Regions from separate parts of the Homo sapiens genome. Here region 2 is linked to region 1. Evidence: fine-mapped expression QTL. A gene starts in region 1. The other region holds a variant in brackets. All regions are shown on one strand. Distances are from middle to middle. Region 1 holds the start of RABIF (RAB interacting factor). Region 2 has its middle 10 kb from the start of KLHL12.

What was found. PIP is the estimated chance that this variant, and not a neighbour inherited with it, causes the effect.
Region 2: its variant is the best candidate, but not a certain one, in a credible set for the expression of RABIF in sun-exposed skin (GTEx, PIP 0.55).

The regions. Positions count from the first base shown.
Region 1 is chr1:202,888,082-202,890,581 of GRCh38, reverse strand. It overlaps RABIF (RAB interacting factor), which reads left to right and starts at 1,433. Exons shown (of 2, transcript NM_002871.5): 1 at 1,433-1,609. The coding sequence starts at 1,484. RefSeq lists an enhancer at 1,398-1,667 and a silencer at 1,738-2,027.
Region 2 is chr1:202,936,194-202,939,224 of GRCh38, reverse strand. No RefSeq gene overlaps it. Among named protein-coding and RNA genes, the nearest start is that of KLHL12, 10 kb to the right of the region's middle. The variant T/A (reference allele first, on the strand shown) is at 1,702.

The sequences.
Region 1 (2,500 bases):
CAGGGGAGGGTGAAGGACTGATGGCTCCTATGCTGTCTTCAGTGCTGACTAATGAGTTTCAGACCAACTTCACAAATAGTTCATACACTGAAGCCACAATGGTATGTTCTACAGAAAAATCAACACGTAAAACAGCTCCTTTTTCACTCTTCACAATCGTACACACTTTCATGTGCTCACATACATACACAGAGATACCCCTAATTTGGTGGTTCATCTTATTTTTTTAAGCTCCCATAACTGGCAACCAGCTACTTAGTTATCTAACCTGGGAAAACCAGCAGTTGCTTTGTGTCACCCCCATCACAATACAGACATCCAGCTAGTTTCTAAGTTCTGTACAATTTTAATTGTTTCAAGTCCATTCCCATATCTTTGTTCCCTCTGCTAGCTTCAGGGCCTTTCTGAGCTAGACTGATGAGGTAATAGCTACCTGATACCTTACCTCTACTCTTTTTCCTCTCTTCAATCTAGCCCCTCTATTTATTCATAGGTTATCTTTCTGAAGCACAGATAGGATCATTACAGTGCTTAACATACAGCAGACAGTAAATATCGAACAGTTATTTCTGGCCTAAAATTCCACAGATTCCCATTGTTCATGTTATTAATGTTAAATTCCTTAGCATGACATTAAAGCCATGGAGCTCTGGGCCCACTCTGCCTTACCTACCTCTACTACCACTTCTCCCCACGTGTAATGTGGGTCAGCCACAGTGGTCTACTAACCATTCCTAAATTTGTTCTCACCCTTGTTCATATATAATACTGTTCTGTCTGAAATAATCTTGCTTTCCTGACAATCCTAGTTAATTAAGAGCAGTGGCTTTAGAGTTGTGCTGCAACCTTTCTGATCTTTACCTTTCTCATTTTGTGCACAAGCGTGCCGACCCCGTAAGGAAACTGATGATTTAGTAAGTTTCTAAAGGCGCTTTGACACATTTTGCCGCATAGTAAATGGTCACAATGAGTAGAAGAGACCAGCAATTAAAGTTTCCACGCATCTTTTTCCAATACCGAAAAGATACATGCCCCTCTAAGTAGTTTCCTATAGAAGAAGCTAATGTGGCTAAAACTTGATGGGAAGTCCGACCCAGATTCCCTTCATATTGCCCCCAATAATGTCCCCATTTATTCAGGAGACTAAATTCAGATCCCAGAAAACTAAACAGTAAGGTCAACCTAATGATTTGTCTAGGTTTTAAGTGAAGCCCAGTGGCCAGGTGGGTATGGAGATGTGTCACTGGTGCCAAGAAGTGTCCCTGTCACAAAGCCTGCCGACACCTAGCCACTTAGGTTAGGCAATGAATGAAGGCGCTTGCGCAGTAGAGTCCAGAGCGGGGAAGCGGGCGCCTGCGCAGAGACATAGTGACCGTCCGCTCGCCGCCCCGCCTCTGCCAAGCCGCGCCAGCGCAGTGAATAACGAGCCAGCAGAGACAGCGTCTGCGCAGCCGTGGCTGAGGAGCCTGTGGCGGCAGCGGCGATGGAACCAGCGGAGCAGCCGAGCGAGTTAGTGTCAGCCGAGGGCCGAAACCGGAAGGCGGTGCTGTGCCAGCGTTGCGGCTCCCGGGTGCTGCAGCCAGGGACCGCTCTCTTCTCTCGCCGACAGGTAGGGAGGCAGGTTGGAGGCCGTTTACACCCACAGTCTCCCCCGACGAGCCGCCGCAGTCAGAATCTGAACCCCGGCTCTTCAATTTCCGGCAACCGCGCCCTCCTCGCGCGGCCTTAAGCCCCGCCCCTCGGGCCTCAGCTCGGCGAGGCTCCGCCCCTGGGGCCGCTGAAGGCTAGGGAGGGAACCGGGTCCCGCCCCGGCATCTTTTGCCGCGGGAACCCTTCCCTGGGCCACCCGGCCCAGCCAGCCCGGCCCTCTGCCCCCGGGGGGGCTTCGAGCGCGGGCCGTGCGCCCCGCCGCCGTCCAAGGCCGGTGCTCCGCGGGCGCGTGGAAGGGAGGCGCCCCATTCCGGCTCTCGGAGCTCCCGCCAGCTTGCAGGACCCGGCAGGTGCCTCTCGGCCGCCGCTCACCGCGGGTGTTGCTGGGTTCCTTTCCCACTTTAGACCTCACCCGCCAGTCCTGAATTCACCGTCTCATTTATGACGGGCACCTATCTGCTCCACAGAGGATCCCCAGGAACAACTGGTGTTGGGGACGCGGCAAAATAACCCTGGTAACCTACCCACTTTACCGAGGCACTGGAAGCCTGTGGTTTTCCAGATGAATCATATTTCAAGTGCAGTAGATCCCTGACGTCCTGGAAGTAAATTTCGAAGAAAAACTTTTTTTTTCCCTTCAGTTTAGGGATTTTAATACCCTTCCTACCACCATCATCGCAAGTGAGAAAGTTGAAAAAAAAATTTATTTCGGTAAACTGTGTTGAAGTGCAAATATAATGTCATTTCAACCATAGACACATCCTATCATTCAAAATTATTTCTAAAAATATGCAGATCATTTTATTATTTCACGTGCTTGAACAGATGGTGAAGTGTAATGTCTAGTAGA
Region 2 (3,031 bases), 48 kb before region 1:
TGTAGTAGCAAAATGTTGCAAACAAGCCAAATGTCCCAAACTGTTGAATGGAAAACTATATCTTGGTGTATTCATATAACGAAACACTGCTGGTGAAAATGAATTACAGTGACAAGCAACAACATGGTTGAGCCTCAGAAATAAGATCGGCAGGAAGGGAGGGAAGCAACAGAATACATTTGCATAATTGCATGTATGTAAAATTAAGAAAATTGCTAAATTAATGATAGGTTTAAGGATACAAACATGGTAAAAACTTTAAAGAGGGAATGTTAATTTAGAATAATGTTTACCTCTGAAGGACTAAGAATCTTTAAAGTTTGTTATTTTAAGTTAGGTGGTGAGCACCTACGTGATCCTTTTGCCTAAGATCATGTGATACTCACTGCCTTTATGCAATGAGTGTTTTATATGTTTAATCCAAAACCATTTTAAGTCTTAAAAAATGCTTAAGGAACTGTTGGCAGAAGTCACAAACTGATGACCTGTACATCAAAAACATCCGTAGACATGTTTGGCCTTGCACAGTGAGAGCAATCAACTGCTACTCAAAAGCAGCTATGTATGTCCTTTATAGAAGGCTGGTGCACTCCAGTTCATCATGGTCCCTACCTAGGGTGATGGTCTCAGTGCAGTCATCTGCTGGCCTCTGCAGGCATCTCGGTTTGCAGCCGCTAGTATAAGAAATGGAAGGAAACCTAGGGATCATATCTGATCCAACTCCATTTTCTAGATAAGGAAATGAGATCCACAGCTGTTGAGAAGGCCTAGTGTGTGGGGGAGGATTGCTTGAGTCCAGGAGTTGGAGGCTGCAGTGAGCTATGATCACACCACTGCACTCCAGTCTGGGTGACAGAGCAAGAGCCTATCTCTTAAAAAAATAAAATAAAATAAAAAACAACCTAATGTGTGTTTCTTCATTTCTCCGTACTAGACAAGATCAGGGAAAGATGATCTAAGAGATAACATTATTGGGCACCTATTTGGTACTTTTGGTATGTCATTTTATATCGTTGACTCTGTGGAATACATAGTAAATGTAGTTAGAAAATAAGTTAGTCTTTCCCCTAGTTCTTCATTCACTAATAGGAAAGGGATAGAATCAGATTCTCAGTTTTCATTCTTGGCCTCCTTTTTTTTTTTTTTTTTTTTTTTTCTTTTTTAATTGAGACAGAATCTCACTCTGTTGCCCAGGCTGGAGTGCCATGGAGCAATCTCGGCTCACTGCAACCTCCGCCTCTGGGGTTCAAGCGATTCTCCTGCCTCAGCCTCCCAAGTAGCTGGGATTACAGGCACATGCCACCATGCCCAGCTAATTTTTGTATTTTTAGTAGAGATGGGGTTTCACCATGTTGGCCAGGGCTCGTCTTGAAGTCCTGACCTCAAGTGATCTGCCCGCCTCGGCCTTTCTTTAATCACAGTTCATCAGTGTTTGTCATTTACTTATTCCATAGTGCCTAGCACCTAACAGATTTGAGGACCACACTGGATTTCAGCTGCTATGAATCTGCTTATTGCCTCATCTAGAAAATGGATGGAGTTACATCAGGTGTGATCTCTAGGTTTCCTTCCAGTTCAATACTAGTGGCTGCAAATTCAGATCCCTCCAGGAAACTAATAATTTTTCCTAAGGTGATGGACAGGTTTGGAGCCAGTATCTGAATCCAGGTCATTCTCATTTAAAGCTCGTGTTCTAAAGAC[T/A]CAGATCACTTAAAAATTCCTTTTGCTCATGTTTTCAATATCTTCCCTTGCTTTTGTCAGAACTGCTAACTAGCAGCAAGTAACTATTACCTTCTTTCTCTAATTGCATACTTCTGGTTCATTCACTTACTTTCTAAATACTTGAGGACCTGTTATGTGCTAGGCATTACAGAACAAATGACAAAAACACTGATGAGCTTGGATTAAAGAAAGGCAAAGCATAAAAGCTAAGAATCTGATTTTACCCCTTTTCCTATCAGTAAATCAAAAAATAGGGGAGAGCCTAACTTATCTCTATAAGCCATCCATTTTCTTTTAAAAAAATATTTTCACAAAGGGCTAATATCCAGAATCTACAACGAACTCAAATGAATTTACAAGAAAAAAACAAACAACCCCATCAAAAAGTGGGCGAAGGATATGAACAGACACTTCTCAAAAGAAGACATTTATGCAGCCAAAAAACACATGAAAAAATGCTCACCATCACTGGCCATCAGAGAAATGCAAATCAAAACCACAATGAGATACCATCTCACACCAGTTAGAATGGCGATCATTAAAAAGTCAGGAAACAACAGGTGCTGGAGAGGATGTGGAGAAATTGGAACACTTTTACACTGTTGGTGGGACTGTAAACTAGTTCAACCATTGTGGAAGTCAGTGTGACGATTCCTCAGGGATCTAGAACTAGAAATACCATTTGACCCAGCCATCCCATTACTAGGTATATACCCAAAGGATTATAAATCATGCTGCTATAAAGACACATGCACACGTATGTTCATTGCGGCACTATTCACAATAGCAAAGACTTGGAACCAACCCAAATGTCCAACAATGATAGACTGGATTAAGAAAATGTGGCACATATACACCATGGAATACTATGCAGCCATAAAAAATGATGAGTTCATGTCCTTTGTAGGGACGTGGATGAAACTGGAAACCATCATTCTCAGCAAACTATCGCAAGGACAAAAAATCAAACACCGCATGTTCTCACTCATAGGTGGGAATTGAACAATGAGAACACATGGACACAGGAAGGGGAACATCACACTTCGGGGACTGTTGTGGGATGGGGGGAGGGGGGAGGGATAGCATTAGGAGATATGCCTAATGCTAAATGACGAGTTAATGGGTACAGCACACCAACATGGCACATGTACACATATGTAACAAACCTGCACATTGTGCACATGTACCCTAAAACTTAAAGTATAATAATAATAAAATTTAAAAATATATATTTTCCTATTTTTTTTAAATTTGGGGTGTGTGTGTGTGTCTGTGTGTGTGTTCTATAAGCCATCTGATATGGTTTGGC